Linked DNA regions of Homo sapiens: all the other regions are linked to region 2. The links come from fine-mapping of genetic effects on gene expression. A gene starts in region 2. Each other region holds a variant in brackets. All regions are shown on one strand. Distances are from middle to middle. Region 1 overlaps ANXA4 (annexin A4). Region 2 holds the start of ANXA4 (annexin A4). Region 3 overlaps AAK1 (AP2 associated kinase 1).

The links. PIP is the estimated chance that this variant, and not a neighbour inherited with it, causes the effect.
Region 1: its variant is the best candidate, but not a certain one, in a credible set for the expression of ANXA4 in whole blood (TOPMed, PIP 0.53).
Region 3: its variant is the best candidate, but not a certain one, in a credible set for the expression of ANXA4 in fetal neocortex (Walker 2019, PIP 0.77).

Annotation. Positions count from the first base shown.
Region 1 is chr2:69,802,103-69,806,332 of GRCh38, reverse strand. ANXA4 (annexin A4) reads right to left here. Exons shown (of 13, transcript NM_001153.5): 4 at 1,706-1,800. Among named protein-coding and RNA genes, the nearest start is that of SMANTIS, 5.2 kb to the right of the region's middle. The variant T/C (reference allele first, on the strand shown) is at 1,524.
Region 2 is chr2:69,740,149-69,744,389 of GRCh38, reverse strand. It overlaps ANXA4 (annexin A4), which reads right to left and starts at 2,256. Exons shown (of 13, transcript NM_001153.5): 1 at 2,215-2,256. RefSeq lists silencers at 1,988-2,227, 2,438-2,617.
Region 3 is chr2:69,615,153-69,619,393 of GRCh38, reverse strand. The region is part of intron 2 of AAK1 (AP2 associated kinase 1); the gene reads left to right. Among named protein-coding and RNA genes, the nearest start is that of AAK1, 26 kb to the left of the region's middle. The variant G/A (reference allele first, on the strand shown) is at 2,002.

The sequences.
Region 1 (4,230 bases), 62 kb before region 2:
TACTCTCCAGGTGTGGTCCAGGGATGTCTGGGGTCTCCAAGACCCTTTCAAGGGGCCTGCAAGTCAAAACTATCCTCAGAATAACACTCAGATGTTATTTGCCTTTTCACTGTCATTCTTCCACAAGCATACAGTGGGGTTTTCCTAAGGCTATTTGACATTGTCTGTGCATCAACAACTGTCTGTTCAAATACTCCCCCCATTTTCAAGTACATATCTGTACAAGCCAGATTTTCTTCATATACCCCAACCAAAACCACATATCATAACAAATTGAAGTAGAAATAGATATGAGAAGCCATCTGTCTTCCATTAAGCCAGACATTAAAGAGATCTGCAAAATGTAAAACAATGCCAATCTTCTCACTAAATGTTTTTTCGTTTTGGGATATATAGCTATTTTTCATTAAAATGTTATTTACAGTAACATACAATATACTTATTATTTTTACTAAGTTAACAAATATCTATTTTTAAATGCCCTCAGTTTTAGTTTCTAATAGGGCAAATATCAAAAGATATAACCCACAAAACCAAAAGTCCTAAAAAATTTAAGAGGTAAAGGAACTTTGAGGTGAATATGTTTGTAGACACCGATGTAAATGTATTTGCCTACTTAACAATATGTCTTGAATATACTTCCAAGTCAATATTCACTGATAACCTTTTTAGCAGCTGTGGAGATTTCTATAGATAGGTGCAACATAATTTCTTTTTTTTTTTTTTTTAGATGGAGTCTTGCTCTGTTGCCTAGGCTGGAGCGCAGTGGCACGATCTTGACTCACTGCAGACTCCGCCTCCTGGATTCAAGCGATTCTCCTGCCTCAGTCTCCCAAGTAGCTGGGATTACAGGTGCCCACCACCATGCCCAGCTAATTTTTTTGTATTTTTAGTAGAGACGGGGTTTCACCATGTTGGTCAGGCTGGTCTCGAACTCCTGACCTCAAGTGATCCACTCGCCTCGGCCTCCCAAAGTGCTAGGATTACAGGTGTGAGCCACCACACCCAGCCTAATTTCTTTAACTAGTCACCTGTTTCTATTTTTCTACTGTTATATACATAAGGCATTTAGTTGTATCTTTGTGATCATTCATGACTATTTCTTAAGGCTCAATTCCTGAGATATAGTTTCCAAATATAATTATTTGGAAAATGGACCAAATTCTAAAGATGTTTATTCACATTTCCTCCTGGAATGGGTCAGAGAGTTTAAGAACTTGTTTAAGATCAATTGACGAAGAAGGAGCTGAATCGCTATTCTTTTTTTTTTTTTTTTTTTTTTTTTTGAGATGGAGTCTGTCTCTGTTGCCCAGGCTGGAGTGAAGTGGCATGATCTTGGCTCACTGCAACCTCCACCTCCTGGTTCAAGCAATTCTCCTGCCTCAACCTACAAAGTAGCTAGGATTACAGGTGCTCAGCACCATGCCCGGCTAATTTTTGTATTTTTTAAGGAGAGATGGGGTTTCACCATGTTGGCCAGGTTGGTCTCAAACTCCTGGCCTCAAGTGATCCACCCACCTCGG[T/C]CTCCCAAAGTGCTGGGATTACAGGTGTGACCCACCACACCTGGCCTCAAGAACATCTTTAAACAAGACAAAGGATCGATCTTTTAAAACACAAGGTCACTTCGGGAACCTAGATCAGGAAGAGGCCCTGCTTCCTGTTGCTGCGAAGTCAGCCAGACAGAGCAGGAAAGACTGTGGCCTACCCTGCCGATGGTGCTCTTGTAGGCTGTCCTGATCTCCTGGCGCTGGGCGGTGTTGCGGTAGGCAAGGACGCTAATAATGGCGTCTTCATCGGTGCCTGGGGGAAGAAGGGAGACAGCAGGTAAGTGTGATTTGAGAGAGGAATGAGAAAGCAGGTTCCTCTGTGGACATTGGAGTTACCCAAACACATGCAGAGGGCTTTCTAAGAAAAGAGGCCCTTATTCAGAGGGTTTGTCTACTTTTTGGGAAACAGATGCTAGGTTCGGGACTTAGCCTCTCCTTTAATTAGCTGTTTACTACTGAAGAAAATGGTTAACTTTCTAAACATTAGTTTCCTTATCTGCAAATGTGAATGATGACAGTGATTTCCCTCGATAGGCTGCTGCAAGTGTTAATATAATTAAATGCCTAGCACTTACTAAACATTTAATAAATGTTGGCTGGAGTAATTTTTTCTCTCCTCTAGAATATTTTTTTTTTTTTTTTTTTTTTGAGAGAAAGTCTCACTCTGTCACCCAGGCTGGAGTGCAATGGCGCGATCTCAGCTCACTGCAACCTCCGCCTCCTGGGTTCAAGCGATTCTCCTGCCTCAGCCTCCTGAGTAGCTGGGATTACAGGGCTGTGCCACCACCCCCAGCGAATTTTTGTGTTTTTAGTAGAGACAGGGTTTCACTATGTTGACCAGGCTGGTCTTGAGCTCCTGACCTCAAATGATCTGCCCTCCTCGGCCTCCCAAAGTGCTGGGGTTACATGTGTGAGACACCACGCCCAGCCATCTCCTCTAGAATTCTTTTCATGTCTTTTGAATCTCCTCTCTCTCTCTTCCATATTCTTGCCTTTTTTTTTGTTTTTATCTTTTTATCATCTCCTCTGAGTTTTGAAACAATTCAAACTTGTCTGTTAATTCACCAATTTGGCATTTTGCAGAGTTTAAGTTGGCTGTTACTGCATTCACTGTGTTTTAAAATCTGGAACTATGTTTTGCACTTCTAAGCTATCTTTCCTGAACACAAATGGTTCCCTTTTAGAACTGCTGACAAATTACCATGATACAACATCTTACCAAAACTTTAAGCAAAAATTACAAATTAAAAATGTTCTAAGTTTTGCTTGCCTGTTTCTTGCAGCAGCTTTAACAAGGAGACTTTATTCTGATTTTTCAGATTGGTCCCTTGTCTTTATAACAGCTGGCTGTTCATAAATGTTTGGTGAATCTTCTGTTTCCTCGTTGTTTGTGCTGTATGGGGGGTTGGAATGGGTTTCAGAAATGATTCTATTGAAAATATTTCAGGGAGAAATGAAAAAATACAGCCAAACTTTAGTTATCCTTGGCAAGGTTAGAGATGCAAAAAGATGTGAGGTGTGGAGAGGAAGCTATAGAACTTTAAGTTTACATACCTTGGGGACCTACTTTCTGTTCCTTTTTTTTTTTTCTTTTTTTGAGATGGAGTTTCGCTCTGTCACCCGGGCTGGAGTGCAGTCCAGCTCACTCCCTCTCCCTCCCAGGTTCAAGCAATTCTCCTGCCTCAGCCTCCCTAGTAGCTGGGATTACAGGTGCCTGCCACCATGCCTGGCTAATTTTTTTTTGTATTTTTTACTAGAGATGGGTTTCACCATGTTGACCAGGCTGGTCTTGAACTCCTGACCTCAGGCGATCCACCTGCCTCAGCCTCCCAAAGTGCTGAGATTACAGGCATGAGCCATCATGCCCAGCCGTGTTCCTATTTTTAAAAAGGAGAGGACAATCCATATAACAATCAATTTCTCCCTTGGCACTCTCAGCTAGGAGGGGGTGTGGAAGGGGCAGAGAGGGTTCATTACCTTTTGTTCATTCCCTGTTTCTGTGAAAGGGATCACTCTTCCCCCCAGTCAAGCCAAGCTGAAATCCTCAAAATAGATTCAATTTTTTTTTTTTTTTTTGAGACAGAGTCTTGCTCTGTGGCCAGTCTGTAGTGCAGTGGTGCCATCTCGGCTCACTGCAACCTCTGCCTCCCGGGTTCAAGCGATTCTCCTGCCTCAGCCTCCCCAGTAGCTGGGACTACAGGTGCACGCCACCACGCCCAGCTAATTTTTGTGTTTTTAGTAGAGACGGGGTTTCACCTTGTTGGCCAGAATGGTCTCGATCTTTTGACCTTGTGCTCTGCCCACCTAGGCCTCCCAAAGTGCTGGGATTACAGGCGTGAGCCACTGCACCCAGCCCAATAGCTTTGATTTTTTTACCCTCTCCTTTCCTCTTCATTCAAGTCCACGGTCATGCAAAATGTTGCTTTACAGCCTCTTTTGCATTCTTTCACTCTTTTTATTTCCTATCACAACCATTCCAATTCAAGATTTCAGGGTTTCTTCTTAGACAAGTGCAGATGTCTGCTAACTAGTATTCTTAACTCCTGGTTGGTCTTCCCAGAGTCTTGCCAGATTCATTTTTGTAAAAAGAAAAACTCTCACAATGTCTCTCCCCTGCTCAGAAATACACAATGGCTCCCCATCATCTGCTGGATTTACTTTAGGCACTGCAGCCTGACATTTG
Region 2 (4,241 bases):
TTTTAATTTCAAATATTTGTGTAAAAATGACACTCAAAGAAAATCTCCTCCTCTTGTTTTTGTTTGTTTGTTTGTTTGTTTTTCAGACAGGGCCTCACTCTATTACCCAGGCTGCAGTGCAATGGTGTGATCATAACTCACTGCAGCCTTGAACTCCTGGGCTTAAGTGAAACTCCCTCCCAGCCTCCCAAGTAGCTGGGACTACAGGTGGGTGTCACCATGCCCAAGTAATTTTTAAAATTTTTGTAGAGACGGGGTCTTGCTATGTTGCCCAGGCTTCCCCACCCCTTGTTTATTCTGGAACTTCAGGTACTCCCTGGCACACTGCCCACAATCCCCAGTGCCTGCCACTCATCTTTATCTCCCTTGGAGAAAAGCAGGCTTAGTCTAAAAGCAGATAATAAATGAGCTCAGGAAAACAAATGAGTGGCTGGACATAAACAAAGAAACATGCCACTGGACATGAGCCTGGGGATGACCAGGAGGCTCACCCTTTAAACACCAAGGCCTGGAGTGGTACATGGCTTGACTGTGCGGGTTACTCTCTAAATTGCTTGCAGAGAAACATTATCCCTAACCAAATGCAAGAACATCTAGGAGGGAAATTCACAGAAGCCCTTGATCCAGTAGTTGTGTGTCTGTGCCTGTCTATGTGTGGGTGGGGGCAGGGGTGTACTTGTGTCTCTATCTTCAATCAACAGAAATCTGACATGAGCTGAATGAGGATGGCCTTGGCCTGATAGGGCTCTGGAGAGTCAGCAGCTCTTGGGTCATGGGGTTATCCGTTTTCTTATCCCTGTCCACTTCCTCTCCTACTTGCTCTTCCACCTGTGTCTGAGAATTCCCTGGCAACTAAAAACCTAGGGTTTGGCCGCTGGGCACGGTGGCTCATGCCTGTAATCCCAGCACTTTGGGAGGCTAAGGCAGGTGGATCACCTGAGGTCAGGAGTTCAAGACCAGCCTGACCAACATGTTAAAACCCCATCTCTACTAAAAATACAAAAATTAGCCAGGCGTGTTGGCACACGCCTGTAGTCCCAGCTACTCGGGAGGCTGAGGCAGGAGAATCTCTTGAACCCAGAAGGCGGAGGTTGCAGTGAGCAGAGATCATATCACTGCGCTCCAGCCTGGGCAACAGAGCAAGACTCCATCTCAAAAAAAAAAATCTAGGGTTTGGTTATCAATAGAGTTACCAGTTACCTCCTGAATAGCTGAGACTATAGGCACGTGGTGGCATGCACCTGTAGTCTCAGCTACTCAGGAGGTTGAGGTGGGTGAAACACCTGAGCCTGGGAGGCAGAGTGAACTGTATCCAGCCACTGCACTCCAGCCTGGGCTACAGGAGTGAGACCTCGTCTCAAAACAAAACAAAACAAAAAATTAAAGGGCAAACAGTAGGGAGTGGAAGGGGGTGGTGGGGTGTCATGGACTGGTGGGCAGGAGAATGGATAACTTGGAGAGGGACACCTTATCTATCCTTCCCACTGTCAGCAGGAGAGAGCAGATGCCCAGTTCCATGTAAAGCACGAGTTATGCAGGACCCACTCTGCTCTGTCAGCTCAGAAGACTTGCATTGCCCCGGGGGTCACTTCTGCCGGTAAATGGTTGAGAAGCCTTCCTCCTTGGCACCAAAGTCTCCAGCTGGTCAAAGTCATGACAAAATGCTGAGACTGCGCCACCAGCCAACTCAAGTCATGGACCCTATAATAATCAGACTCCGATGTGCCGGGCACTGTGCCGAGGGCATTAGACACACGAGAAGGTAAGAAAGTGGTAAGGATCTAGGAGAAAGGAGTAAGTTTCTTAAATGGAGTAAAGAATTAAAAAGTAAACTGTAAGAGGTGTTAGGAGGAGTTAGCTACAGGCAAGATTATCTCGGTCCTTTCTTTTTGATGCAAAGCCTAGCACATGGACTGAATAAATAACTGCCGTGGTCTCTGACCCGCGTCCTGAGCCGTGTAAGCGGCCCTGGATGTCCTGGATGGTGCCAGCGGTTAAGCACCGCGCTCGCCTCCCTCTCGCCCACCCGGAGCGAGTCCAGGGCCCGCTGGCCCCCTCCACCCTGTGGCCGCCCGGGCTTGCCCGCAAGCCGGCGGCGAGCACCCACTCTGGGGTGCAGCGCGGAGCCGGGCATCCCCGCGAGACGCTCCCGGGCCACGCTCCCCGTTCCCTGAGCCCAGGACCCCCGGCCCGGAGCCCCTTTACCCCTCGTACCGAGGCCGGGCTGCGCTCCTCCTCTGCGGCTGCGGAGGTCACACCCTACTCAGGGCCAGACAGCGGGTCTTATCCGGGACGGATCCGCCCCACTGTGGGGTGGAGACTGAGCCCAAGTTCCTGGTTGTTCCTCTGCCCACGAGACCGGAAAATCCCTCTCTAGGGGAAGCGCACCTGGGGCCCCGGGCCGGGACGGCCGCGCCAGGAGCTCTCGGAGAGGCAGGCCTCGACCCCCGGCGGGTCCGCCCTCCACACGTGCCTGCTCCCCAGGCCCGCCCGGTCCCCCGGCCTCGCCCCCTGCCCGGATTGGACAGTGTCCCCAGTATCGCCAGCCCCGCTCCTGGCCGCGCAGGGTGGGAGCAGTTGGATTCTTGGGGTCCCGTTTCCCGGGCGCTCCACACCCTCGGAGGGCCGAGCCCGGGCCACCTCGCCAGTTCCTCCCTGCGCCTGCCGCGCCCAGCTCCGCGCCAAGCCGGAGTCCCGCGGCAAATCCGCGCTTCCCCCCACCTCGGGAAACCGTTCGTCTCCCAACGGCAGGTCGTGCCGAGCCCGTGGCCGGAAAAGTAGAAAGTGAAATCTGAAGGATACATTTCATTCCCCTCTTTCACATGAAAACACACATTCCCAAAAGTTTCCAGCACTTCCCTCTTCCCTGTGCGCCCAGCAGGCCAGGAAAGCTTTGGAGTAGGAGTTAGGAGCAGCCCCGGATCTTTGTACTCCTGTGAGTGACTAAAGTTTAGACACTGTCCGTAGCTCCCAGGTTCGGCTTGGCGCGGCGCTCATCCCTTGTAATAGTTCTGTGTTTTCATATCTGCTTCCCCTGCTGGACGCAGCCTCTTGAAGACACCAACTAGGGCTAGGTCGTCTTTGCACCCATGCCCAGCACCGATTTCGCCACGTAGTGAATGCTTGCAGAATGAATCCGTTGAGTCTATAGGCAAATTCAGTTTTTTTAAAAAACAGAGAATAGCCCGTTTGGGGAGTGTTTTCCATCCGACACATCAAAATCTAAGTGGTTAATGGCACCCTTAAAGCTGGAGAGGTAACATTAAATTATTTCATTAAGATGTAATTTTAAAAGGTGGTTTAATATGGTTTAGAGCACGGGTTTTAGGATCAGACTGATTTGGATACTAAAACTGGTTCTGCCTCTTTTATCTGCATATGATAACTTAAAAAATTAAGGCTGGGCACAGTGGCTCATGCCTGTAATCCCAGCACTTTGGGAGGCCAGGGCAAGTGGATCACTTTAGCCCAGGAGTTCGAGATAAGCCTGGCCAATGTGGTGAAATCCCATCTCAAAAAAAAAAAAAAAAAAAACATATATATAGCCGGGTGTGGTGGCATGCGCCTGTAGTCCCAGCTATTCAGTCGGATGAGGTGGGATAAACACCCAAGCCCGGGAGGCAGAGGCTCAGTAAGCTGAGATTGCGCCACTGCACGCCAGCCTGGGCGACAGAGTGAGACATTGTCTAAAAAAAAAAAAAAAAAAAAAGAGGAAGAAAGAAAAGAAAAAGAAAGAAAAAAAGAAAAGAAAACAAAAAATAAATAAATAATTAGCCGGGTGCATAGCCACGCCTGTAGTCCCAGCTACTAGCCAGGCTGAAGCAGGAGGATCACTCTAAACCCAGGAGTTCAATGTTGCTGTGAGCTATGACTGCACCACTGCACTCCAGCCTGGGCGACAGGGTGAGACCTTGTCTCAAAACAAAAACAAAAACAAAAACAAAACAAAACAAAAAATTAAAGGTCAAACAGTAGGAAAAAAAATGAAATACAGATAATTCATTTCTTAAGCAAGATTAGAGAGACACTGCATCCCTTACAAGCAACAATTAGGCCAGGTGAGGTGGCTCAGACTGTAATCCCAACACTTTGGGAGGCCCAGGTGGTTGCTTGAGGCTAGGAGTTTGGGAGATTATCCTGGGCTACATGGCGAAAACCTGTCCCTAAAAAAGAAAAAGAAAAAGAAAGAAAAAATTAAGCTACATGAAAAAAATAAAGTTTAGGAATGAAGTAGATGCGTT
Region 3 (4,241 bases), 120 kb after region 2:
GATGAGTGAATCTGTATGGATATAGATAAGTTTGTAGTGGGGAAGCCTTGGGGGTAGGGTGGGAATTGAAGGCAATCATAACAGATACCCTCAATTTTCTGGAGTAAGGAGGCAAGGTTGTCTGCCGAGGATAGTGGTAAGTATGGGGCTGAGGATACTCCTGAGAGTTGGGTTAGTCATCGAGGGGAATGAGAGAGGGAGCTAACCAAGGACAAGGAAAGGACCCAAGCCAGGATGGACACCATGAGGCAGTCTTGTAAGGCTGTGTGATTTGAGGTTAGGAACAGAGCAGGTGGATTTAGCATTGATTCAAGGTTGGGGAGGTGTGAGGGGAGGCTAGGAGTGCACAGAAATCAAAGGAGCAGTGTAGATGGTCAACCATGGGGCCAGAATGGGGAGACAAGCCTGTCTAAGCAGGGGGTTGATTGGTTGATTGAAAGAAAATGGAAGAGTCAGAGCATGGAGGACTGGATGGTCAGGCCAGAATGAAAGCCTAAGGGAATGGAAGTCTTGGAGGGTGTGTCAGAATGGGGGAGACTGATGTTTAAGATTTGTGTTGACAAGGTCTAGAGGGTGGCCATGGATGTGTAGGTCATTGAGAGGACCAAAGGTCAGTGTCGTGAAGAAATCTGGAGGCTGCAGTTTAGGAATAAGTGGATTTTGAGACCACCCAGAAAGATGGTAGGAGTTGCAGTGGAGGGAAGCCAAGATGCTACAGGCATCCGTGAATGTTAGAGACTGAGCCAGAGGGGGAAGTACAAAGGCAAGGCAGGGTGGAAGCCAGTGTAGCCACGTGGCATGAGCTCAAAGGAGCAGGAATTTTTACATGAGGGTGGAGGAGTGATGGTTTGGAGTCAACTCAGGAGAGCAAGGAAAGTTCTGACCTCCTGCGCTAAGCTACTGAGGCGTAGGAAAATATGGCATCAGAGGGCTAGTGATGCAAGTGATATTGGCTGGTGCAGGAGCAGGACCGAGCAAGTTGGATGATTTATCCTTTGGCTTGATTGTGGAGCTAAGTTGTTTTTATTGTTAGGTATTTATAATTTATGGCATTTATTTGGCAGCTTAACTTCCTCTTATTAAAAGGAACCCATTTTTATTTTGCATGTATTTTACTTATATATTAGTATATTGAATATTATATATTTATTTATATCTCTACTTATATTTAATTTTATGTGTACATGAATTCTTTTTTCTCCTTTGGGTCTTGGCTTTGTGACAAAAAAGACCTTGCATGGTCGCTGTAGAGGCATCTTCAGGACCTGGTTTTGAATTTGCTTTTTGTATTTTATTGCTGGGAGCTCCTGCTTACCTTTCACTTTTATGCCCTCCTGGTCAGGTTGGTTGCCTCATGGTTCTTTTTTATCACTAGACTAATGATTAATTCTTAGTGAAGCCCTTCACCTCAGAGGTTGCTGAATGATGAAGGACCACTTCCCTGAATCTTTGCTCAGCAGCCTCGAGATAAAGGAGGAGGTATGACTCTGTCAGCCAAAAAGCCTAATCTTTGAGTTGGAAATGGTTTATTCCTTGTATATTCTTTCTAGGTGTTAACAAACCAAAATAGTAGAGGCATCTCCATTAAATGTGGCCTCTTCTATACTCCTAATGCTTCCAGCTCTTCACTTTATCCCTTCACAGGAGCAGGCACAGCGTGCTGCTGGGAATGTCTGTTCACTTCTTTTACATGTGATTAGTTGTTCCTGATGTTTGCACTCTCATACACTCAAGCATGTGGCACATACCTCTTTAGGATTTGCTGCATCTTACAATAACGATTTATTTATCAGTCTTCTAAGCTGTTCTCCCTTCATCCCTGACCCAACTTGGACTCCTTGAGGGTATGGTTAGGTTCTCACTCATCTTTTTGTATGCTTTTAATAAGTAGGTATTTAGGAAGTAGGTATTAAATTAATGCATTAAACTTAGAATTCAAACAGCCTAACTCACAGATCTTGCAAAGGAGAAACTATGCCCAGAGGATTAAATGGCCTGTCC[G/A]AAACTACACAGCTAGGTTCAATTGGGATTAGAATCCATTTCTCCTCTCAAGCTTGTGGGGTCTTCTGAAAGATTAATGTCAAAGCAACTCGATGTGAATTGATTGTGTTCCTTAAAGTTAGAGATAATTGAATTCCTTGAAAATTCACTTATATCTTCTAGGGATAGGGGCTTTCAACCTTTCATTTCACCTGTTACCCTGTTTGGGGGTGGTGTGATGGTTTGGAATTTTGTTGTTCTTGACTGAGATTAGAGAATGAGGGCCTAGGCACAGGGAGGCTCTGTTCTGCTTGTCAAACCAGTAGGTTTGCTTTTTCCTTGACCTATACCTTAAGGACATCCTTCTATCTTGTAGGTGCTAGTGGAGCTATGTTACCATACACTGGGGATAGGATGAGGGCCCCTGGATAATCTGTGGCCTGGCAAGTGACACAGGCAGAAAGCAGCATGTCCAGGTCCCTCGTGGGTGGCTTGGGGGAACTTGGGGTTAGAAAAAGGGCATTATAACCAGGTGCTAGAAGTTCACAGATAGGTCATTTGTGGCTGGTAGGATTGGCAGGAAACAATGAGTCACACTGGTAGGTATACAAGGGATAGAAAAAGAAGAAATTTTTGATAATTGCTAGAGAGCCCTTTTTCCATTTAGACCAGTAGGTCTCAATTGTGGCTGTTTTGCCCCCCAGGAGACACTTGGCAATATCTAGAGACATTTTTGATTGTCACACCTAGGAAAGGGCTATTACAGGCATCAAACGAATGGAGGTCAGGGATGCTGGTGAATATCCTGTAGTGCATGGGATGGGGATGGCCCCCATAACAGGGAATTATACAGTCCAAAGTCATGAGCGTCCAGGTTGAGAATCCCTGATTTACACCCTGGGCCCCAACATCAGTACTCTGGTGGTTACTTAAGTCATAAAAAAAATAGTTTTTTATATATACTTTACTTTGAACTCTATTGTTAAATGGCAAAATCAGGTTTATTTCACCTTTTTCTTTTCGTTCTTTTTTTAAAATGGAGGCAAAATTCACATAACATAATTAACCATTTTAAAGTGAACAGTTCAGTGGCATTTAGTACATTAACAATGTTGTGCAGCTGGGCATGGTGGCTGGTGGCTGTGATTCCTGCTACTCAAGCGGCTGAGGTGAGAGGATCACTTGAGCCCAGAAGCTCAGCCTGGACAACAGCAAACTTCATCTCTAAAAGAAAACCAGAAACCAAAACTAAACATAATGTTGTGCAACCACTACCTCTATCTAGTTCCAAAACATTTTCATCGCCCGAAAAGGAAAGTGGTACCCACTAATCAGTTTTTAGTACAGACAGGGTTTTGCCGTGTTGCCCAGGCTGGTCTTGAACTCCTGAGCTCACATGATTTGTCTGCCTTGACCTCCCAAAGTGCTGTGATTACAGGCATGAGCCACCATGCCCAGTCACTATGTTTAGCTTTAACATAAAATTTACCATTTTAGTATTTAACCTTTGATATAGACTTGTCATTCCACAAACACATTTTAAGCCCCATGTCATGAGGGCACTGTTGAAAGCACTGCATAAATTATGATGAACAAAACAGTTATAGGTGTTTTTCTCCTAGAGCTTACAGTCTAGTGGGGAAGGCAGACATTGAACTCCCACCAGTAAGTTTTCAAGTCCGGGAAGTGAATTTAGCTGTAAAAGTATAGGAGTTGAAGCCAGTGCAGTAGGATTGACTGTCACAGTTTCTTGCTTTCCACTTTCTTTCTGTGTGAGTACAGTTTCTTTCATATAAGAGCAAATTCATAGCCAAAAAGAAACAGGGAAGGAAGAAATGAAGAAAATAAATGAGAGAAAGCAAGACCCAGGAGCGAGGAGGAGGGAGGATTGGGGAGGTCCTCCCAGGAAATCCCGTGTTTCAGGTTCTTCTAGAAACTCCTCAGGCCAGTTCTTAAAACATCTTCCACTGTGGTCTGTCTTTATCTTTTGAGTCATATAGATGGGAATGGTATTTCCATTTGGTTAAATGGTACTGGGTTAAAAAGCAAAATAACATACCCTGCCTCCCATCCTCTGTGTCTCTCATAAGGATCAGAGCCCAAGTGACATGAGGTCAGCTGAGTGCCCAGCAGGACTGAACTATTCTGGCCTGCGGGGCTTCTCTGCGAAGTCCCGAGAAGTGGCTAAGCTGAGGTCGAAGTCCACATGGAAAGGACAGCACCAATGGGCATGCAGTTTCCTTGGTAGACTATGTAAGTGA